Regions from separate parts of the Homo sapiens genome. Here regions 1 and 3 are each linked to region 2. The links come from fine-mapping of genetic effects on plasma protein levels. A gene starts in region 2. Each other region holds a variant in brackets. All regions are shown on one strand. Distances are between the middles of the regions.

Region 1 (8,181 bases), 92 kb before region 2:
TATCTTAGGCCAATTAGTCAGTTTCTGTGAACCTTGTGTCTTCATCTGCGAAGGATAACAATACTTAAAAGGTTGCCTCTGCAGGGCTGTGCTGACAATTTAATGATAGATTTTTATCACTTTATTTTAGCTAATAATTAATGAGCTTTTACTATGTGCTAAGTAATTTACAGGCAGTAAAGGTCCTGTAATTTGGTGAAGCTCATTTAATTCCTGCAGCAACAACAGTGCCCAAGGCGAGCACTGTTATCACCATGTGCTTCACAGAGTCCCCAGAGGAGCCTGCCCAGGCTGTCTGGCTCTACCACCCCAGCTCCTACCCACCGAGCTCTATCAAGCGGGAACCAACATGGGTCAAAACATTAATCATTTGTCAAAACATTTCTGACAAGTCACCGTTTTGCTCAAAAGCGCAGCAAAGGTCAGAAGCATGATATGCAACAAGAAACCGACTTGTAGCTGGTGAATCTGAGAAGACAGTGAAAGAAAGGAAGCCATGAGGGGCGCGCAGTGCCTGAGAGGCTGTGACTGTTGGCAAGTGTTTACCTGAGGACAGGCCCACCTGCATGGCTCATGGTGGGGAGGGGGAGATCCTGCCCAGAGCAAAGCCCTGAAGATAAAGGGCTTTCACTCCTGCCAAGGGTCTCTTACCAGAGATTACATCTTTTCCCAGCCAGGCAGCACTGATAATGAAGTCCTCAGAACATTTCCCTGAGTACATTTCCCCAGAGGTTTTCTAAGAGTCTGGAGAACAGAACTTTGTTGGGGGGTGTTGTGTCCCCACCATGAGGTCAGGCTGCGGTCCCTGACCAGAGCCAACCACTCGGAACTGATTAGGAGAGCTCTGAACTCCAGATTGACACAGCCATGGCAAAGGGAAATCATGAGCCATTTGCTACTGTCTTCACCCTTGCACCCCATGCACAGACAGACAGACTTGTATTCATAGAAATATCTGCCTTCCTATTTGACAGGTGCCTGGCAAAAAGTAGGCCTTTCGTGCCCCATGAATTCCCTTTCTGTATAATGCCCACTCCCCACTACACACCCCAGCCCCAGGAGGCATCTCCCACATGCTCACCACACAATTTGCACTCCGCTTGGTAAATCAGCATTAAGCAGAGGAGAGCGCAGGAAGGGCCTATATAGAGAGTGGAAAAAACACTTCACCCCTCCCCAGCAACACAGCTACCCACTCTTTCCTCCACATCCCTACACTACACCACACCCCTATGCTACAGAGAGCCAGACAAAGAAGAAAACGGGCCCGCCATCTCCTCAGAAAGAGGAACTGTCTCACCTCCTAATCTTTACTACACTGCTTCGATTTTTCTTGGAGTAATTTAAAGCAAACGCCAGACTTTGTATCAGTTTCCTGCTACCAGCTCTTCCCAACTGCGGATCCAACAAAAAATTAAGCCTTAATGTCCTAAGACCTCCATTGTATGCAACGCATCAACTAACTCCCATGGCATCGAGAATTACCTACGTACCACCCCTGGCAGAATCGTACCACCCCTGGGAGAATTGAGAACGTAGACCCTCAGATTCTCTACACTGTGAGACACACACACACAGACACACACACACACACACACACACACACACACGCACCAGGTTCTGCCAGAGAATATATGAATATAAATAATAATTCAATATGATCACAATGCCAATATCACCCAATATCCAACCCACCTTTAAATGTTTACCAATTCTCTCAATAATGTCTTTTACACTAACCTGCTCAAAAGGGGATCCAAACAAGGACAGGACATTTTGTTTGGATGACTGGATGATGTGCCATTTTCAATTCTCTCTTATCTAGAAGAGTTCCTCGCTCCCTTACTTCTTCTTTTCCACGGCATATATTTGTTGAAAAAATGAAGTCATTTCTCCTGTGGAGTGGCTTATGTTCTGAGCCTGGCTCACGGCTTCCTCAGGGTGTTGTTTAATGTTCTCCTCTCTGCTCTGTGTTTCCTTAAACTGAGTGTTAGATTTCAAGGCTTGTTGAGATTTGGTGGTTTCAAATTCAATGGTTCTCCCAGGCTTTTTTTGTTAAAATATATACACATATACTCTCTCTCTCTCTCTCTCTCTCTCTCTCTATATATATATATATATATACACATATATATGTGTATATATGTGTGTGTGTATATATATATAGAGTATATGTGTGTGTGTATATATATATATAAAACATTTAGGCTGGGCGCGGTGGCTCATGCCTGTAATCCCAGCACTTTGGGAGGCCGAGGCGGGCAGATCACGAGGTCAGGAGATCAAGACCATCTGGCTAACATGGTGAAACCCCCGTCTCTACTAAAAATACAAAAAATTAGCCAGGCGTGGAGGCATGCACCTGTAGTCCCAGCTACTCAGGAGGCTGAGGCAGGAGAATCACTTGAACCTGGAGGCGGAGATTGCAGTGAGCAGAGATCATGCCACTGTACTCCATCCTGGGTGACACAGCGAGACTTTGTCTCAAAAAACAAACAAACAAGCAAAACATGTATATATGTATATATATAAAACATATATATGTATATATATACCCAAAAGGATCTAAGTCCTGGTAGTCTAAGGGAGTTGGAGGTGAGGAAATGAATAGGGAAGGTTGAGTTCTTCTACTTTGTGGTGGCCCCGGGGCCTGTAAGAAAACTTACACCAATACTCATGCGATAGGTTCATTCTTTTTTTTTTTTTTAATTATTATTATACTTTAAGTTTTAGGGTACATGTGCACAACGTGCAGGTTTGTTACATATGTATACATGTGCCATGTTGGTGTGCTGCACCCATTAACTCATCATTTAGCATTAGGTATATCTCCTAATGCTATCCCTCCCCGTTCCCCCCACCCCACAACAGTCCCGGTGTGTGATGTTCCCCTTCCTGTGTCCATGTGTTCTCACTGTTCAATTCCCACCTATGAGTGAGAACATGTGGTGTTTGGCTTTTTGTCCTTGCCATAGTTTGCTGAGAATGATAGTTTCCAGCTTCATCCATGTCCCTACAAAGGACGTGAACTCATCATTTTTCATGGCTGCATAGTATTCCATGGTGTATATGTGCACATTTTCCTAATCCAGTCTATCATTGTTGGACATTTGGGTTGGTTCCAAGCTATAGGTTCATTCTTTCAGCAAATGCTGATTGCCTACTGTGAACCAGACTGCAGACACAGCAGTAGAGAAGCCAGCCAGAAATCCCTAACCCCTCCAGCACTCACCTTATAGTGAGGATAAATAAAGAGTCAAACAACATAAATCCGTGGTGCTTTGCAAGGAGATAACTGATATGCAGACAATTAGAGTAGGGAAGAGAAATAGGGACAGCTTGGAGTGGGTGAGGTGGAGATTTAAATCAGATGATCAGAGAAAGCCTCACTGAGAAGAAGACATTTGAGCAAGGGTTGGAAGGAGGTGTAAACCAAAAATAAAATCCTAAGCCCCCCACTAACCAACTGAATGGACTCCTTTTTGGCCATGGGCACCCCAGAGAAACCTGAAAAACTGAATTCCCAGCCATGACAGAAAGGAGGTTACACCCTCATCATACCCCTCCCTTTTGGGGTTTAGGTACAAGTGACCAGCATTAAGGTAAAATAGAGATTATAAGACTGACCAAACAGACCCTTTATGACAATAAGATACCAAACTATACACAATACCTAAGGCCATAAAAGGCAAAGATTAAGTCATACCCTAGAAACAATACAGTCTCATTAAATGGGTTTTTTAATTAACCCAGTAAAATGTGGCTTACTCTCCAACCTGACTCTGGTATAGTATCACATGACAGACAGCAGACTCTGAAGGAAATTAAAATATTTTGCCCCAAAATACATTTCTTTGACATATTTGGAAAAGGCTGCCAGACAGCCTTTGGACTGCAAAGCCATCTTTGGTGGGGGAAACGTGCATCTCCAGAGAATCGATATTAATGTCTCTTCCCTTGCTAGGCCTTTCCCAGATCTAGGAGAGATTCTAACTGAGAGTCAGACACCCAAAGGTCTGAGAAGAGACAATCACTATCTATTCACCCAGAGGGCTGCTATCTATGAGGCTCCAAGGACCTAGGCCCCCACAACCTCCTTATCTTACTCAGGCATTCCTTCCTACTGACTTCAAGTCACTAGACAATAACTTGACTCTCTCAGCTACTGTTAGCTAAAGAATCCCTAAAACGCACTTAAGACTTGTAAGGCCCCTCAGCCCTCCCCTAACCCTCTACCCCCCAAGTCCCTGTGTAGGGAAAACTCTCTGTAGCCATCTTTCCTCTGCTCTCACACCACAACAATCAACACAGAAGATGACTTATGTGACCATATGTGTGGGGGTCCCACCCCAACACCAAGCAGCGACACCAGCTTGGTGTCCTCTAATTCAGTTCCAACACTATCTACCTGGAAATAGTGTCAGATCCTACAGATTGAGGGCTTAGTGTCCAAGACATCCCCCCTCCACCAGTCACAAGTCCAGGCCTCCAGAACTTCTTTCTGACCAACCAGCTTCCATTGGGGTTCCCCTCTCCGTGGGTTCAATTAATTTGCTGGAGCGGCTCACAGAACTCAGGGAAACACCCTACTTACATTTACTGGTTTATCATCAAGGATGCTGCAGAGGATACAGATGAAGAGATGTGTAGAGCAAGGTATGGGAGAAGGGATGCAGAGCTTCCACGCCCTCCCTGGTTGTGCCGCCCTA[C/T]AGGAACCTCCTCCTATTAAGCTATCAGAAAGTTCACCCAACCCTGTCCTCTTGGGTTTTTATAGAAGCTTCCTTGACGTCAGCATTTCTTCCCCCAGGGCATAGGGTAGGAACCTCTCATGGGAAGGTTTTTTTTTTTTTTTTTTTTTGAGACAGAGTCTCGCTCTGTCGCCCAGGTTGGAGTGCAGTAGCATGATCTTGATTCACTGCAACCTCTGCCTCCCGGGTTCAAGCAATTCTTCCTGCCTCAGCCTCCCGAGTAGCTGGGATTACAGGCGCCCACCATCACACCCGGCTAATTTTTCTATTTTTAGTAGAGACGGGGTTTCACCATGTTGGTCAGGCTGGTCTCGAACTCCTGACTTCAGGTGATCCACCCACCTCGGCCTCCCAAAGTGCTGGGATTACAGGCATGAACCACTATGCCTGGCCTCATGGGAGGGTTGTAAGGCCCACAGTCAGGCCAGAAAACATAAAAACCTTGCCTTGGGGCAGGTGAAAGGACGGCAGGAGAGAGACTGTTTCTTAGGGCCTGTCCCTGAAGTCTAAAAAGCCCAGCATTCTAGCAAGACTGTAGCAAGGGCTATGGGGCTATGCGCCAGGAAACATGCATGGAAACCAACACATAGTCCAGGCATGATGGCTCACGCCTGTATTCCCAGCACTTTGGGAGGCCAAGGCAGGTGGATCACGAGGTCAGGAGATCGAGACCATCCTGGCCAACATGGTGAAATCCCATCTCTACTAAAAATACAAAAATTAGCCGGGCGTGGTGGCATGCTCCTGTAATCCCAGCTACTCAGGAGGCTGAGGCAGGAGAATCACTTGAACCCAGGAGGCAGAGGCTCAGTGGGCAGAGATCACGCCATTGCACTCCAGCCTGGGTGACAGAGCGAGACTCCATCTCAAAAAAAAACAAAAAAAAAAACCACCAATACATATATCCTAACACCGCACCCTCCCCCACTTTGAGATGTCTCACATTTTTTGGACAGAACTACCAGTTACCTTCCATGTACTGATTTCCAGATATCCTTGCCTGTAATGCCTGTCTCCCTAAAATGTATAAAACCAGACTATGGCCCAACTGCCTCAGGGCCACTCACTCAAGGCTTCTTGGGTTTGTGTTTTCTCTAAGCTACAGTAACTCATATTGCCTCAGGATAAACTTCTTGAAAATATTTTACAGAATTTGGTTTTTCTGTTAACAGAGATGAAGGAGGCTACCATGCAGATTTCTGAGAAAAGAGGGTTGCAAGTAGAGGGAACAGCAAAATACCTACACAGGGGCAGCCAGATAATGTGGCGCCTTACACAGGTGTAGGGGTTTTGGCTTTCATCTGATTAAGACTTTGCCGATGTATGTTTCAAAGGCATCACCGGATGCTGCCTTAAGAATCAACTGTAATGAACAGCAGGTCTTATAGATGTTACCAAATTTAATTCTTACCACCACCCTGTGGGGTGGGGTATTAACAATCCTCTTTTTTAAATAAAGAAATTGAAACTCAGAGAGTTTAAGTCATTTGCTCAAGATGTCACTGTAAATGGTGAAACCACGGTGTGTTTTGTTTTTTGTTTGTTTGTTTGTTTTTGAGACAGAGTCTCGCTCTGTTACCAGGCTGGAGTGAAGCAGTGCAATCTCGGCTCACTGCAACCTCCACCTCCCAGGTTCAAGCAATTCTCTGCCTCAGCCTCCCGAGTAGCTGGGATTACAGGCACCCGCCACCACGCCCGGCTAATTTTTGTATTTTTAGTAGAGACGTGGTTTCACCATCTTGGCCAGGCTGGTCTTGAATTCCTGACCTCGTGATCCACCCGCCTCAGCCTGTCAAAGTGCTGGGATTACAGGCATAAGCCACCATGCCCGGCTGACCAGATTATTCTAACCAACAAACTGGTAGTGCTCTTCATCCTATGTCCCTCTACTCAGGCCCTTCCAAGGGCTACTGCGAGCCTCTCTGCTTTATCACACCAACTACAGTTGCTAATCACTGTATTGACCTTCTGGTGACACCTATTTACTCTGCCCTGATCTTCATCTCCTTAATCTTTAGTGCACAAACCTCACCCTCATCTGGACCTTAGAACCCAAACTTTCTGTTCTTAGACTTAGAGTGCTTGACACCCTGTTGCCCCCAGAGGGTGGCATAGTGCCTCCGAGAGGGGCTCCATGTGTCCTGGCTGCCAGAAACCCTCTCCCATGAAGGACTCCCATTTCTCTAAGAGCTTGGATTCTTAATGTGTGCCACCTGAGCTGCCACTTAATGCTGACCCTTCTTTCTCTTTCCTCATATCAGGGATAGCTGGCTGCCCCACAAGAAGTTTGCTCCTTCTGCCATATAGTTATTGCTGTAAATTACTGTCCAGAGAGGGATTGCATTTTACACACACACAAACACACACAGCATATAGATGGGATCATTTTACTAGTTATTGGCAAAGAAATGTGAGCAAAAATAACATACATCACTTCTGGGCCAAGATGGTTAAGACGTGAGTTTATTTGCTCTAGCAGCTAGCATTACCCTATAGAGCTACTCAATAGAGACTTCCTGAATATTTATTTCTATGGTTTAAAACCATCAACAGAATATTCAGCTATAGATTTTTCATATCTCCTCATCCCAACATTTCACAATCCCAGTGAAACAACAGAAGCACACCCTAATTTAATCAAAGCCAAGAGGTCCTAAATTCTTTCACATCAAATCATATCTCTTGTATTTTGTTTCCCCCGACACGATTCCAAGATTTTGAAAGATGTTGTCGACTAACTTTAATTTAAAATTTGAGTTATTTGTTATCAAATGAACAAAGATACTGTTGCCAATCAGAGGTTCTGAATGGCATGAGATTGCCACGACTACCACAGTCAGTTGATAAAAGTTTAGCATAAAACAAAGAAACTTGATTTTCTTGGCTGCGCAGGTTTGCCGTGGTGAACGTGCTTCTCCCATCTGGCTTTTCGAGATACTCAAGTGTCTGGTGGATCTCTGGAGGCCCTGGACAAGGGACTCTGGTTTGTGGAGCTTACTCCAATAATCGTAACTTTGTGATTACAGCCATAGACACAATTCTTGCTTAGCATGCCCCTGTGATGGCTAATACGGAGTGTCAACTTGATTGGATTGAAGGATGCAAAGTATTGATCCTGGGCGTGTCTGTGAGGGTGTTGCCAAAGGAGATTAACATTTGAGTCAGTGGGCTGGGGAAGGCAGACCCACCCTTAATCTGGGTGGGCACCATCTAATCTGCTGCCATTGTAGCCAGAATAAAAAGCAGGCAGAAGAATGTGAATAGACTAGACTTCCTTAGCCTTCCAGCCTACATCTTTCTCCTGTGCTGGATGCTTCCTGCCCTCGAACATCAGACTCCAAGTTCTTCAGCTGTGGGACTCGGACTGGCTTTCCTGCTCCTCAACCTGCAGATGGACTATGTGGGACCTCACATAGTTCCATGACCGTGTGAG
Region 2 (8,181 bases):
AGAAGGAAACTGGAGCCCAAGAGGTTAAGTAGCATGAACAGCTAAGTGGCGCCTCTCTCTTCTGTCTTCTCACTGCCTCTTGCCTTATGATTTCATACAAAGCAGCCCCTAAATGGGGAAGCACAAGACAGAGACATGGAGGAACCCAGCACAAGAGTAAAGTGAACCGTTCAGCAAACACTAAAGAAAGCTGATCCCCAGAGATAATTGCACTATTCAGCATACCTACTACTGGGATCCCTGGCTTTGCTTAATAACCAAACCTATTTAAATCCATAAGGAATTGGTTCTCTGACTTAAAGGGTGTTGTTATAACAACCATAACTTTGGCTTTTCTCTGGAGTACCAACAACTACTGGTTTGATGCAACCATTTCCCTTTTACGCAAAAAGGTGCACTAAAAGTAGACCACGCATTGTTGTGTATCATTAGGCAAGCAATTTCTCTTCTCTAGGCCTCACTTTTCCCATCTGGAAAGTAAAAGGGTCCAGTCACATGATTTCTGAAGTTCCTTACAGGGTCAGCGTCCTGGTGAGAAAACTATACTGCAGTGCCAAGAGGAATTGATGTAGGATTTTTCTTCTTGGTCCTCGGGCCAGCAATGCCCCACCTGTGCTCGCTCGGCCATGCAGGTGTGTCCCAGCTCACTGTATTATAGCTTGTACCCGCGTTCGGTGGTTCCGAGCTCGTGCACCACACCAAAGGATAATGAGGATACACTGGACATTGAAGGGAGAGGAAGGCAGATAAGAATTTTATTGAGTGTTGAAAACAGCTTTCAGCAGAGAGGGGACACCGGGTTGGTCCCCTACCTGAAGACGGAAAAGTTCCCCAATGTGGCTGGGTCAGGGGCCTTTTATGGACTCAGAATAGGGAGTGCATGCTGACCGGTTTGTGAGTATGCAAAAAAGATGAAAGCAAAGACACCACTCAAAGGTGGGCACGGCAGCGTAGAAAACCAATTAGGAAAAAGTGGGTATATGTAAAACAGGCGAAATGTAGGAATCAATTAGGGGAAAGCACGCCAAACAAGTTCTCACTCTGGTCTGAGGATTTAACTCGTAGCTTGGCTTTCAGGCTTTAAACTGTCTTTGGCCTGGAGGTGGGGGTTTCACCGGGTACCTGACCCTATCTGCCTAGGCATCCAGCTGCCTCCTGTTGCTACCAGAATCACATTGAAAGTGAAACACGCTGGAAACTCTAAGGAAAAGAAACAAGTGTAACTAGGAGATAACAGGCACAGTGCAAAACAACATGTTAACTTTGGGGAAATCCGGCTTCTCAGTGTTTTTTTGGTTTTCCTACTTCTCTGCCAAATACAAAAATAAGCAGCTACTTCCATGGGACTCTCGTTAAAAAAAAAGTAACTTTAATAAGATCAGTGAAAACAATGCTTTGTTCTCCCACAAGTGGCTCAGGAGTAGCTTGCTAAGACACACTTTCTTCCCCGTGGGGCTGATGTCAACAGCCCATGCTTTTGCCCAAACAAAGGCCTCCTGGCACAAGGATGAGAGGCAAAACATCTGAGTCTCCGTAGCTGGCCTTATTCCAATTTGAGGGGAAGGGGCAGCCAGGAGAGAAAAATAACTAAGCTTTTGAAAGGCTTGAAGGAGAGTAAGGAATTACTAAATCTATTTTTTCTCAACAGAATAAAGAATTCTTGAAAGGGATAATGGAAGGGTGCAGCTTTCTATTTGAATTACTCTTTGTTTCACCCTATTCTGCCTAAGGCCACTGCCTTTTAGGCCAATCACAGAATCCCGGTTTTGCCTTTAGTTGCCCGCTGAGCGATGCAGTGGGAGTTGGGAGACCCACACTCAAGTGTTCTCTCTGTGGCCCGTTTCACCCGGTTTAAACTTGGACAAGTGGCTGAACTCTCCGGCCTCAGCTTCCTGCCTGTAAAATGAGAAGGCTCCCTAGATGCTCTCTAGACCTTTTCAATAACAGCGGAATAGGATTGGAGGCTCTCCAGTTCCCCCCCCGGGGACAGGTTAATCTTCAGCCACACTAGCCAAGGTGAGGCAGCAGCCCGCCCGCTCAGCAGGCACACACTGGGGCGGCGGCGCCTCCATTCCTGCTCACACTGCACGCCCACAACCTGCACCAACACCATCGCCTCAGAGACCAATTCACCGCGAAACCATCTCCCCGCTGCAGATCGTGTCCGATTAACATCTGCAAAGCTGAGCTGAGCATATGTAAGCAAAGAAAAAGCAAAACAAACAAGAGTTCTCTTTTTCCGGACCTCGGAATTTCTTTCAAATAAACTCAGAACTGAAAATTGTACGTCCCCAGCTAGAATACGAGGTCTCGGCTGGCCTTGCTTGCGAAAATGCATTAACAAGCCAAAAGGGGCTAGTGACATCTGGGGTGTCTGGGCACACGGACACGGGCCTCAGAGGCAAAGAGCAAGACCGCACTGGGCGACTCGTACATTCTTCCCGCAGGCTGAGGAGGCGACCAAAATATCCCCACAGAGGCAATCGCCGGAGTGCGGGGACAATAGTGCACCCAGCACTCTCTTTTTTTGAGGGGCACCCTTAGACCCTTAACCCAACCCACATCTCTAAGAGACCTCCAGGAGGTGAAGGTGAGGGGTGGTCCACTTCACCCAAAAGAATGCGCCACGGCCGGGGACCGACTCAGCCTGGAGTAACCTTTTTGTAGCTGCTTTCTTGTTTTGGTTTCCCTTTTTAAGTCTGGCAGTTTAGTCTGATGCCCAAGCGGTACCTTTTAAATGTCTCTCTCGCCCTCTTCCAGCAAGTGGCGCCTCTAGAGCCACTCCCTCCCCCGAGGCTGAGACAATGGCCCGGCACCGCAGGGCGGCCCCTAAGGGTATGCAGTGCGTCCAGCTCTCCGGGCAGGGCGCACGTGCGTTTGTTATGGTGCCTGTGCCCCCTCCGCTGCCGCGGGCCTCAATTTGTCGATCCGTAAACCCAGACTCTGCAAGGCGCAATGCCCCCACGCCACCCCACCCCATACTGACGGTGCCGTGGAGAAATCCGTGTTCCCCGGGGCTGTGCGCACGTGGGTTTGTTGTGGATCCGCAGGCTCGCGGAGCCAGAGAGAAGCCAGGGTGGCCCTTTGGCCCTGACAAAAATGCACACACCCCCAACCAAAAGGCGGCCAGCCCCGGAGCCAAGGCAGCTGAGGCGGAGCTGGAGAGAGATTCCCTGCGCCCTACGCGCGCCGCGGGCCCCGCGCCTCCGCTATCCTCCCGCGCCCCTTTGCATCACACTCCTCCCGGGATAGCCCGGGCCGCGCCGCCGCCCACCGCACCCCCTACTCACTCGCTGCACTCTCGGCCGCGGAGGCTGCGGTTGCTCAGCACGCTCGGTGGCGGCCGCCCGCTCCGCGCCCACGCCGGTCGGTATCGGCTCCCTTTGTTAACGCCGGGCAGTGCCCCAGGCGTCTTCCCCAGCCCGGCCCTGCCCAGGACTCCCCTCCCCCAGGTGACTCCAGAAAACGCGCTCGGCAAGGGCAGGATCGCCCGGGAGCTGGGGACCCCACTAGGGAGTCTCGAAAGAGGGGTCCGCTGGGGAAGAACGGGGGACAGAAGACGCACAGTGGAAGGGACTGGAGAAGGAAGGAAGAAGAGCGCGGCGGAGGGGCGGGAAGGAAGCGAGTCGCCTCCGTATGCAAATAGAGTTGCGAAGACTGGGTCGGTCTCCGCCCCCACTCCACCTCTCGCCACCGGCCACACCGCGCCCCAAACCGGCCTGGAGGTCGCTAGCGAGCGGGCTTGGGGTTAAAGACTCTTGATGAAGGCACTGGGTGATGCTAGAATCCTGCCTGCTCTCAAGGAGGGTGGATCGAGGGCCGAGTGGGAGGGGCCACGCGGCTGCGCAAGGACCCCTAAATGCCTCTTCCCCGCTTGGCCGCGAGGGGTCAATCCAGCAGTGTCCGGCTTTTGGTCCTAACATGCGGGTGCTGTACACCCGGTCTCTGCTACCGGCTGACTGCGAGACCCTGAGGAAGTCGCTTAACCTCTCCGAAGACTCGTGTTGCTCTTATCTAGAATAGGAAAGAACAAAATCTTTCACTGCGTTTGGCATTAACCTCCTAACATTGAGGCATGACTCCTACTGGGCGCTCTCAAATGGCAAATACAGAAGGAGAGGAGCGTCCTCGAACCCCTGCACCCAGAGGCTTCCACCCCAAGCTGCAGGCTGAAAGACTGAAGCCTCAGCCTGGATGGTGAAGGGAGCGAGGTTCTTTCTTTTCACCCGGACGACGGTGGGGCTGCTGGGGAAGGAAAGAGGATTAACCAAGCTGCGTACTGACCATCCCCGATAGCCCCAAGGCGATTTCCCTAAGAAAGAAAAACTGCCCAACAGGAGGGCGGAAGGGGCCTTTAAGGCCTCCAGTCCAGCCTCCCATAGCCCAAAGAGAGGATGTGACTACCAGAGGCAATAGTCATATCCCAGTTGTCTACTGAGTGCACACTAGGCACCAGGCTGTGTGCTGGGTGGGAAAGGGGAAAGGAAGGAGATACTGGAAGGTTTGGGGGTCCTCTGGGAACACAAAGTCCAGTGCACACTTAAAGTGCCTGAAGCCCAGGCCCAGAGTTCTGTCTCCAAATGAGGTGCCTACCCCACATCACCAACCTTGGAAAGGGAAGTTACATCCGCACCCTGTCCCCAGCACCCTTCTTCCAAACACTGCTTCCTCCCTGTCCTGATCCTGGCTCCCTTCTGCTGATACTGTCATTCCCTTCCCTGCTGCCCCTGAGGCATTTTTGCTCAGTACAAAGAGCTCCAATTGAAGGGAGTGCCAGCCAGAGTGAATTCAAATCTTTATGACCAACTCGCTGTGCCTTCTTGGGTGAGTTCCACATCCTGTGAGCCTCCCTTTCCTCTTCTGCAAAATGGAGATATTAAGGAAAGCGTTGTTTTCAGGATCCTGTGAAATGACCTACGTGAAACACGTAGCTTAGTGTTTGGCATATAGAAGGTGCTCCTGACAGTAAAATGTATGTATGCGTGAATGAATAGAAGCAGCCAAGTTCAGAAGACTATTTCTGGAAGGATGCTACATTGAAGATTTTAGGCCCTATTCGAAAAAGGGAAAAAAAAAAAGGAGGCTATTAAAAGATTCTGTGCAGTAGCATGACATGCATCTTTGTATTTTACAAGGATTCCTCTGGCACCACACTGGAAAATAGATGGCAGAAGCAGAGAATGCAAGAGACTAGATTGGAAGCTGACATCAATGGAGATATAATAAGAGCCTGAACTGTGTCAGTGACTGTAACAAGACAGAAGAAAAGGACATCTAAATAATAGCTACCATTTGGAGATCTGACATGGTTTGGCTCTGTGTCCCCACCCAAAAATCTCATCTTGAATTGTAATCCACATGTGTCAGGGGAGGGACCTCCTGGGAGGTGATTGGATCGTGGGGGGCGGTTTCCCCCATGATGTTTTTGTGATAGGGAGCTCTCACGGGATCTGGTTGTTTGATAAGTGTCTGGCATTTCCCCTGCATTCTCTCTCTCACCTGCCGCCATGTAAGATGTGCCCTGCTTCCCCTTCACCTTCCACCATGATTATAAGTTTCCTGAGGCCTCCCCAGCCATATGGAACTGTGAGTCAATTAAACCTCTTTTGTTTATAAATTACCCAGTCTCAGGTAATTTATAATTTTCTCAGTAGTGTGACAATGGACTAATACAGGATTCAAAGCACCTTATTTATTACATTGTCTCTCCTTTTCATCAGATAAGTAATGGTCTTAGTCCTATTTTATGGATTAGGAAACTGAAGTCATCTAGGAAGTGAAGAGAGAATTTGACACATTCTTCCACTTTCTTTGAAAGCTTTAATCATCTCCTTCATCATCACCCATATGTCAACATTACTTAAGAACTAAGAACAGCCTGGTGCGGTGGTTCACGCCTGTAATCCCAGCACTTTGGGAGGCCTAGGCGGGCGGATCATGAGGTCAGGAGACCAAGACCATCTTGGCTAGCACAGTGGAACCTTGTCTCTACTAAAAACACAAAACAAATTAACCGGGGCTGGGCGTGGTGGCTCACGCCTGTAATCCCAGCACCTTGGGAGGCCGAGGCGGGCGGATCACAGGTCAGGAGATCAAGACCATCCTGGCTAACATGGTGAAACTCCATCTCTACTAAAAATACAAAAACAAAATTAGGCGGGCACGCGATGACGGGCGCCTGTAGTCCCAGCCACTCAGGAGGCTGAGGCCGGAGAATGGTGTGAACCCAGGAGGCGGAGCTTACAGTGAGCCGAGATCACGCCACTGCACTCCACAAAAGCAGAAGGCGCTCTTTCAGAGGTTGTCCAGTCCCCACTCCGCAGTTCTCTTTTGCAGAGAACTGGAAAACCAAATTAAGGAGAAAACAAGGGAAAAGGTTATCTCAACACTGAGATAAGCACAGATGATATGACACGTGCAAAAATTTCCTGGGCGTCTGAGACAGATGAGTGGGCAAGCAAGGGTGCTCCTGGTAAAATTCCAGGATGGGGGCCATTGTGGAGCAGCCTCCACCAAGGTTCTCTCTTATCACTTAGGACCCTCTGACCTATAAGTGAGAGGCAGAGGCTGGGGCATTACTTTGGAGATGATCCTGTCCTCCCAGTCTATACATGTGAGGCTTCTCCTCCCATTTTCTCTGGGGTCCCTGCCTTGACAGGTTGGTTTTGGTTTTTTTGAGAAGTACAGATACCCACTTTCCCTCTGGACAGTATCTCAGTTCTGGGCCCTCCACCCACAGCTTCCTGCTATGGTCTGCATGTTGTATCCCCCCAAAATTCGTACAATGAATTCCTAACCCCCAAGATGATGGTATTTGGAGGTGGGGCATCTGGAGGAGGTGATTAGGTTATGAGGGCAGAGCCCTCACAAATGGAACTAGCGCCCTTATAAAAGAGACCCGGACCAGGCATGGTGGCTCACACCTGTAATCCCAGCATTTTGGGAGATTGAGACGGGCAGATCACCTGAGGTCGGGAGTTCGAGACTAGCCTGGTCAACATGGTGAAACTTCATCTCTACTAAAAATACAAAAAATTAGTTGGGCGTGGTGGCAGTCACCTGTAGTCCCAGGTACTCGGGAGGCTGAGGCAGGAGAATTGCTTGAACCCGGAAGGCAGAGGTTGCAGTGAGCCAAGATCACGCCACTGCACTCCAGCCTGGGCAAACAGAGCAAGACTCTCTCTCAAAAATAAGTAAATAAATAAATAAATATTAAAAAGTAAAATAAAAGAGACTCCAGAGAGCTAGCTAGCCCCTTCCAACATGTGAGGCTGCAGCTAGAAGGTACCACTTATGACCAGGAGACTGAGCCTTCTCTGAACACCAAGTCTGCCATTATTTTAATGTTGGACTTACCAGCCTCTAAAACCATAAGCAATAAACTCCTGTTGTTTACAAGCCACCCGATTTATGGTGTTTTTGTTATAGCAGCCCAAACAGACTAACACATTCCCCATCCCTCCCCCAACCCTTGACCTCAACCTTAGCCAATATATAATATTTTTAGGTAATGCATTGCTCAGTCATCATTTCAGACATCTTACGGATTAATACACATAATTTTCATTTACAACAATCCACTTGCAAATAATATGTTCATAACACTCTTGAATTGGAGGTGATGTTTCATGAGGGGAAAAAAAAAAGACAATAAGCAGTTGAAAATTTCCTCCCAAATCTTTCTTCCCCACCCACTACAGATGTTCATCAAGTTCCTTAAATAAACCTCACAGCTCTCCTCTTCATATCACGTCTCCTCTTCAGTACATGTTGTCTAATATGAGGATAGGTTCGGGGCCTAAAAGAACTGTGGTTTGCCTGTGCCCACCATGTTGGCTTTCAGTGCTGCCAGCCTTATGGATGATTTTATATATATATATATATATATATATATATATATATATATATATATATATATATATGTTCACAGCTAGTCTACTAAGTCTGTAGAACTCAAGTTTAAAAGTAGAAAGAAAATAGCAGCATGCTCAGCCCCCTTGCCGTGTGATGCCCTGTGCCACTATAGAACTCTGCAGACTCCCCACTTGCATGAAAGCTCTCACCAGATACAGTCCATTGACCTTGGACTCCTCAGCCTCCATAACTATAAGAAATGACTTCCTTTTCTTTATTAAAAGAGAGAGAGAGAGAATAACAGCATCTCTAATTTAAGCACACAGG
Region 3 (8,181 bases), 310 kb after region 2:
TTCGGAAAAGTCCTCCCATCCTCCAGAGATTGCCATTGCTTCCTGTATTGAGGGCCTGAGAGTTCATTCATCCCATGGCCTGGTCTTGACCTGAATCATCAAACTACGATCAAGGCAGGCTGCTGCCTACTCATTCCGGACCCTAGCTCCTGAAAGCTTGATATGCCTCAAACAGAACTCTTTTTGTTGTCTGTCCTTTCTCAGCAGTATCATCTCTTTTCGCTTTCTGCTTCCTCTTCCTCGACTTGCTGTACCATCAGATATGCCTCCTTTGCCCAAATCCTTCCACCGTGCCTTCTGAAATTTCCATTCCATAGTGGATAAAAGACTACCTGCCCTACTAATTGAGTCATTTTCTGTGCTCAACTTGAGTCTCACTTTTGCTCAAGCACAACTTCTCCATAACAACTCTGGAATGGATGCTTATTTTTAGTAACATTGGTATCCTCCCCATTTTCCAATGTTACTTCCAGGATATTAGTCCTCTGTGCTCGCATAAAACCCTTTTTCTCGGCCGGGTGTTGTGGCTCACACCAGTAATCCTAGCACTTTGGGAGGCCGAGGTGGGCAGATCACCTGAGGTCGGGAGTTCGAGACCAGCCCAACCAACGTGGAGAAACCCGTCTCTACTAAAAATACAAAATTAGCTGGGCATGGTGGTGCATGCCTGTAATCCCAGCTACTTGGGAGGAGGCAGGAGAATCGCTTGAACCTGGGAGGCAGAGGTTGCGGTGAGCCGAGATCGCACCATTGCACTCCAGCTTGGGCAGCAAGAGCGAAAACAACAAAAACAAAAACAAAACAAAACAAAAGAACGCTTTTTCTTTGAGGACCATGCCACCTAGCTTGCAGACACTTTCCTCTTCCTGTTCCTGCCATCTTCTGACTTACTGGCCTCTCTGTATTGCTAACATCTTTGTCTCCTGGCTTATACTCCTGCCCTCCACCTTCACCTTGTCGTTATTCACATGGATTCATCTTCTGTACAGACAACACCCTTACTTCTTTCTCGCTTGACCAGCTTGATACCAGAGACCAGCATCTAACTCCATGTGAAACTGATCTACTCTTTGACTGCCATTTTTCCCCCCAACTCGATTTCTCCTTATTTCCACTGTTCTAGGCCACCCTGGCAAACTATAGCCAAAGGCCAAATTCAGCTCACTGCTAATTTTGTAATAAAAGTTTTATTGGAATACAGCCATGCCTATTCATTTATATATTGGCTATAGTTGCTTTCTTCCTAAAATAGCAGAGTTGCATTGAAATAGAGACCACATGGTCCATAACACCAAAGATATTTACTATCTGGTCCTTCACTAAAACGTTTTCTAACCCCTATTCTGGACAAACAAAATAAAAATATCTTTCTACGAAAGTAAAACTTGAGCATTATAGAAAGTTTAGGAAATAAGACAAAGCATTAATACAACAAAGAAAAGCAGCTCCCCATTATTCCATAATTCAGATATAACCACTGTTAGTATTTTAGTTTTTCTTCCTGTTACTTGGTAATTTTTTATGTCTGTATGTGTATATTAATATGTCTACATATATAAATTAATTTTAGAAATTCAGGATTATACCACTTTATAACCCACTTTTTTCATTTCAAAATATATTATCAATGTTTTTCTATATGAATTGTTACTTTTTAATAACATTTAATTGTTACTTTTTTATAAACATGATTTTAAATTTCTGCAAAGTAGTCAATGGAGTGAAGATAACATCATTTCACTAGCCAGCCTACTAGTACAGAATTTTTTTTTTTTTTTTTTTGAGATGGAGTTTCGCTCTTGTTGCCCAGGTTGGAGTGCAATGGCACGATCTCAGCTCACCGCAACCACCACGCCCGGCTAACTTTGTATTTTTAGTAGACACGGTGTTTCACCATGTTGATCAAGCTGGTCTCCAACTCCTAACCTCAGGTGATCCACCTGCCTTGGCCTCCCAAAGTGCTAGGATTACAGGCATGAGCCACCGTGCCTGGACAATTTTTGTATTATCTTAACATCCACCAAATATTCTTAATTGGTAGTAGTGACACAAGTATGGAAAAATGCACCTGAAATCCAATAACTTTGAAACATGTGTTAGACATGATTAAAATCCACTAAGAAGGCAAAGAAATGAGACATATGTAATGCTATTAATTTAGGAGAGAACACTCTGTAAAATAATAATGTTAAGAAAGTACCGAGCAGCATTAATACAAAAAATGTGCTATAAGGGTGGTAGATTTAACAGCTCTGTAACTCATTCTCTCTATTATTATTGGGAATAAGTAATTTTAAAATAATGCACATTTTGAATAATGCTGTCTCCAGATATGCATCATTTAGAGGAAACAAGTCACATAGGAAACTGTTTTAGGTAATTCTAGTGAGGAAATCCTGAAGGTATTTGGAAATGCAATGTTAGAATTCAATAAAGAGGTCCAATCTGGAGCTATTAAGTTGCAGTTATCTGGGTAACAATGATAGTTTAAATCATGAGAGAGGATAAACTTGCCAAGCAGAGTACATATTTAAGAGAAGGTCAACAACATAATCTTCTGAGGCCACCAAATTCAGAGGATGAGGAGCAGCAGCAGAAAGGGAGGGCACTTACTGAGAACCTAGAATGTGTCAAGAAGGTGTCATACATAAATTTGTAGCATCTCATTTAATCCTCCCAACACCAGTACATCAGCTGTTATCTATGTCTGGTTGTATAATGTGGGCAGAAAGAAGTGAAAGGTGAAGCAGCTTGGCTCAGGTTTTGCAGGTCTATGTGACTTCACTGCTTCTTTGAGAGACATGAGATCAAGGCATGCATTAGCCAGACACAGAAAAATAGACATAGAAAAATCATCTGCACGAATTTTAAGTTGGAGAGGAGGGAAACTGAGGTAATGCAAATGAAACAAACTAGAATTCACTGCCTCAGTAAATGCCCCCCCCCCACACACACACACACATCTATCCAGTTCACAAAGCCACAAATCCAGGAATCATCATCCTTCACGTCTTTCTCACTCCCATATCAAATTCATCAGCAGGTCTTGGGAGTTCTACCTCCAAATTATAACCTCTTTTTATCATGTCCACTGCCCACCACCTTAGACCAACTCATGTTAATCTTTTCTCTAGAAAGCTCTAGTGACTTTCTATCCTGTGGCTACTCTTGCCCAGCTACAGCCCACTCTCCAGTCTCCCTACAGCAACAACACCAGTAAACTCTTGACAACCAGGATGCCCCTAGAGCAACTGCATCTGCCAGTGGTCACCATGACCTCAGAGTCAGTCGTCCTTACTGCTCTTTCTACAGCATTTAGCACAGCTGCCCATAGCTTCTTCTCTGGCTTCCGTGACACCTAGTGGTTTTCTTACCTTTCTGGCCTTTCCTTTTGGTTACTGGAATATTGGCAAAACCTCTAGGCACAAGTGATAAGGTGAGTGTCAACACTTGATTCATTCTCCTTGGTTTAAAGTGAAGTCACTCAACTGGGTGTCAGTCCTGCCCTCTAAAATTCCATCTGAAAGGGCCCATCACTGAGGTAGATCGGAAAAACTTAATGCTGATGGACAAAAATTGAAATTGCCCAGGGACCATGCTAAAATGGGGAGGGTTTATTCACATATGCTATCTGAGCACTTGGACGGTGTCTACAAATGTCCACGGGATTCACCTGTCCAGGCATCCTTTATCTAATGATACTACAAGTCACAGCTTTAACTTGGGTCCTTAAAATAGATTGGCTAGGAAGACCAATCTTGTGTTATAAAATGAAGTGTATACAGTACACTCAACGTATATCTTAAACATAATTAACAACAGATATAAAGTGAGGATCTTGTTTTAATTACCAATCCCTCCTTACCTCGGTACTGGAGAAAATCAATGGATAGTTTATTCTGTACAAAGTTCAGGAGCTTGGCCCACCTTTAGCAATATTTTCTCTCTCTTATAAAATGAGAAGAATTATTTTCTCATAAAGAAATGGTCATATCTTGGCCAGGTGCGGTGGCTCACGCCTGTAATCCCAGCACTTTGGGAGGCCGAGGTGGGTGGATCATGAGTTGAGGAGATCAAGACCATCCTGGCCAACATGGTGAAACCCTGTCTCCACTAAAATAAAAAAAATTAGCTGGGTGTGGTGGCACGCACCTGTAGTCCCAGCTACTCAGGGGGCTGAGGCAGGGGAATCATTTGAATTTGGGAGGTGGAGCTTGCAGTGAGCCAAGATCATGCCACTGCGCTCCAGCCTGGGTGACAGAGTAAGACTCCGTCTCAGAAAAAAAAAAAAAAAGAAATGGTCACATCTTATGGGTTGTGGAAAGATCCTAGTCTCACTTTTTCCTGTATCTGGCAATACAGCAGGTTTTTGTTCTCTTTTGGTTCTCTTTTCACTTTGATTTTGATTAGGGACACTGTGTTTGTTGGGGTAAAAGGCTATGCATGTGAGGGGAGCTGGGATGAAGTCGCAATAAGCATGACCACATTCAGCTTAGAACCTTCTTTATTAAGGAAGGTCTTTCAGGCACTTTCATTAACAGGCACATATAAGCTTAGCAAGAGCACCTTTCAAAGTCACAGTTCCAATGGTTTTTGTAAGGTCAACCAGAGGCAGAGAACACAATCATGGTGGCTTACCGTCAAAATCATGACAAGTTGTCAACCTAATGCCTTCTGTCAAACATAACCACCACCCACTCTGCTTCTGTCCTGTGAGGAATGACGGGAAGTAGGGAGTCAAGACTTGATATTAATGTAGATCGCATGTGACACTTGCGTGGCCAGCAGACAAGGCCCCCCACCCATGCCCAGGCTTGGACAAAATGGTGGCTATGTTTTCTGTGCCAAACCTCCTCATCTCTGCCATGTCTAGCCTAGACCTTGAAGTGTCTGATCCTCCCCGGACATGGAGGAACCACTGGCCCAGCAGCAGCACCAACACTAGGCTGCACCACTGTGCGTGTTTTCCGGGGGTGCGACACTTCTCCTGAGGGTGACCCCAATGAGACCACACCCATGAAGGTGTGGC[G/A]CAGGTCGTAGTGCGCCCGGTGCAACTGGTGTCCTGGAGGAGCTGCCAGTAACACATGGGAGTCTGGGGGTGAGCCAGCTGGAGGGAGTCCAGGTGCGCCAAGTGGAGGGGACGGAGGTGCATCTGGGTCCACCACGGGTGTGGGGACTGCTTCATTGGCACCTTCTGGTTGGGGCTGTGAGCTCACGGGCTGGAAAAAGGACCATTTCCTTCAGTTAGTTTGCTTCCTCCTCCCAGGCAAGACAACCCACAGGCCCAGGTGGCACTGGCACCCAATTTCCTCACATTATACATTTTTATTTGCAAAGAGTCTAGCAAGAAAGGACCTACCCAAGTACAAGGGATTGTCATCAAGGTTACAAGGAGGGGTGACTGGCCTATGTTGGCCCCGGCCTCACTAGGATTGTCTTTGTGATGGTGGACTTACACGCATATGTCCAATGAGTAAAAGCACCCCACCTATGGCTCACCCTTGCCCAGCAGTGCCACCCTCTTTGTCATCTGAAGCTGCAGCCACTGGGAGCTAACAGGTAGATCTGGCCACCTGGTCTCTGCAACTCAGAAAACCACTCCCACCTCCCACAAATAAAAAGGTGGCTTTGTCAACTACACAGTAAGATGGTTCTTCCCTGTAGTCACTAGTTCGTGGGAGGGAAAGGCATAGCTAAAATATCCTTCCATTTGTTGATGATTCCGCATACCCCAGTGTTATTTCATACTGTGAGATTCAGAAGCACAGGAGAGCAAATGTCCTGTCATCACTACTGCACTGCATAAATGTGAAGGGGTCATTGTATTCTGAAGGTGTAGGCAAGAATATTCACGGAGCTGTTACCTGTGTTTGGAACACCATGCAGGTCACTGCAACCTCTGCCCCACCAAGCTTCTCACTGAGTGTTGCCTTACAAAAGCCATATTGCTGCCCACAGAGAAAGAGGATTTATTTTAACTAATTTCAAAAATGGATCCCCCCCAATTTCATTGACGCGCCAACCTTAAATTAGTTTGAAAAACCATTTTTCTTAAAGTTATAGTTTCTGCTTGTGGGAGGTATATGATTCTATATATAACATGGAAATACAGAAATACTTTGAGAGTGAGAGAGATTACCCATAATCCCTTTCTGGTGGTGGCCTAGAAAGAAGGACTGTTAACATTGATGCATTTCTTTCTTATTTTAAAATACTATTAAATATGATTTAAAAATTGAGATCATTGTGACTATACGATGTTGTATCCTGTGTGTTTTCACTTGCCATAATAGCATTTTCTCATATCATTCATTATTCCTTGAAAACACAATTTTTAGTGTCTGCACAATTTTCTATTTACTGATGTGCATGGATTATTCAATGACACCTTCCTGTTGGACATACAGATCTCTCTTTTTTGGTCTCTTTATATCCATAATAAATCATTTTTATAGATATATTCTGTCAAATGTCACTGATGAATTCTTTTTCTTTTTCTTTTTTTCTTGAGACAGAGTCTCGTTCTGTTGCCCAGGCTGGAGTGCAGTGGCACGATCTTAGTTTACTGCAACATCTGCCTCCTGGGTTCACACCATTCTCCTGCCTCAGCCTCCCGAGTAGCTGGGACTACAGGCGCTCACCACCAAGCCTGGCTAATTTTTTTGTATTTTTAGTAGAGACGGGGTTTCACCATGTTAGCCAGGATGGTCTCGATCTCCTGACCTCCCGATCCACCCGTCTTGGCCTCCCAAAGTGCTGGAATTACAGGCATGAGCCATCATGCCTGGCCACTGATGACTTCTTTAGACTAAAATCCTAGAAGTGTACATTATTGGCTCAAGGACTTGAAAGCTTTTGTATCAGAGTTATATGTCTAGAAAATGTGCACTTCACATTCCCAGTGGGTGGGCGTGACTTGGCTTCATTAGCAAATAGCCTCTCTCTTTCTCCTAACTTCATGTGCTTCCAGTGGGTGAGATGATTTGATGACAGCTCTTAAAGGGATGAGGTGACACCCTAAAAGAAGGCTTGCCGTGATCCACAGGGAGAGGGGATTTGCACTGTTATTCTCTGTCTGCAGCCCCAAGATACAAACTATCCAAGGATGTTCTGTTCCACAAACAGCTCTGTCCGAGTGGTAACACCCCAAGGTCCCGGCCCACTCACCTTTTCTGCCAGCAGGTTACACTTGGCTGCCTCTGTGGCCTCTTTAGCAACACAGTCAGTGCCAGACACTGTAAACTCCACATAGGTAGAAGGTGGGAGGGGCTGAGAAGAGTACATGAAAATGCTCTTGAGGAAAGATGACTTACAATGAAAAGGGCAGAGAAGGAGAGCGGGAAGTAGCCTCCTTCGGGGAGCACCATTCATGCAGACCATGCGTCGGCCCAGAAGACATGTCCCTCAATGGCTTACATAGGGCAGTTGCTATGGGGTTGTGTTCTCAAGTGCTTGTGCTTTAGAGGTAGGGGTTGTGTCTTCCTTGTAGGAGGGGCAAGTATCCATCACCGGTCCTTCAGGGTGGAGGTGAGTTTGCAGATAGGAAACCGGAATCAGAAGGCCAGCATTAGACTGATAGGAGTGGGAACCCTGCCTCCCCCCAGCCCTCACTCTTGGGCTGCACTTGATACCCAAGGTTCAGGTTATTCCAAAATAGGGTGGGAAAGTGAAGAGATTAATACCTCTTCCACCTGTTTCATAGAGCAGGCTCAAATGAAAAGATTTAGATGAAAGTATGGAAGATATCACTTGAGCTTTTCTTTTTTAAAGTAGTTGGAGCATATGGACACAATAAAATATCTGTTATTTGGTGTAGTCTGGGGTGGGGATGTTCTGAGAATCACATATTCTGATTAATAGAATTGCCGTCTATACTAGCGTATTTCCAAGTATGGCCATGGCTGATATCCAGAATACATTTTCTTAAACATTTGAATTCTGTTGAATTCCAATGTGCTAAACCACCCACAGTACAATGAGATGTTTTCTCCAGTGACTCGAAAGGCATTTTAAGATCTTGCCATTATAAGCTTGTCAGCACAAGTGAGTATTAATTACGAGTCTGTGGCAGATGTTCAGCGGAGATGGGTGGTACTGGAGCCCAGCAAATTTACAGTGAGTGCTTCTGGCCGACGTGGGCAACTCTACCAGCTGACACTGAGCTTTGGTTTTAGCTGGAAC

Which allele goes with the higher level. Alleles are on the strand shown, and positions count from the first base shown. The strength of an association depends on the size of the effect and on how common the allele is. Not every link is listed here.
In carriers of allele A in region 3, the plasma level of the protein whose gene starts at base 3,599 in region 2 tends to be higher than with G alone (moderate association).

What was found. PIP is the chance, under the fine-mapping model, that this variant and not a neighbour inherited with it causes the effect. The UK Biobank Pharma Proteomics Project read protein levels with antibody pairs (Olink). The fine-mapping took linkage between variants from a reference panel, not from the people measured, so its PIPs are less certain.
Region 1: its variant is fine-mapped to the plasma level of the ST6GAL1 protein (UK Biobank, PIP above 0.99).
Region 3: its variant is fine-mapped to the plasma level of the ST6GAL1 protein (UK Biobank, PIP above 0.99).

The regions. Positions count from the first base shown.
Region 1 is chr3:187,018,418-187,026,598 of GRCh38, reverse strand. The region is part of intron 2 of ST6GAL1 (ST6 beta-galactoside alpha-2,6-sialyltransferase 1); the gene reads right to left. Among named protein-coding and RNA genes, the nearest start is that of ST6GAL1, 92 kb to the right of the region's middle. RefSeq lists enhancers at 409-738, 4,348-4,617, a silencer at 2,292-2,381, a cis regulatory region at 4,620-4,713 and a promoter at 4,620-5,197. The variant C/T (reference allele first, on the strand shown) is at 4,710.
Region 2 is chr3:186,925,944-186,934,124 of GRCh38, reverse strand. ST6GAL1 (ST6 beta-galactoside alpha-2,6-sialyltransferase 1) reads right to left here and starts at 3,599. Exons shown (of 8, transcript NM_173216.2): 1 at 3,291-3,599. RefSeq lists enhancers at 1,153-1,212, 1,233-1,282, 3,376-3,984 and silencers at 3,179-3,368, 3,609-3,688.
Region 3 is chr3:186,617,624-186,625,804 of GRCh38, reverse strand. AHSG (alpha 2-HS glycoprotein) reads right to left here. Exons shown (of 7, transcript NM_001622.4): 5 at 7,168-7,269; 6 at 5,865-5,948; 7 at 4,487-5,219. The coding sequence ends at 4,875. Among named protein-coding and RNA genes, the nearest start is that of AHSG, 8.7 kb to the right of the region's middle. The variant G/A (reference allele first, on the strand shown) is at 5,030.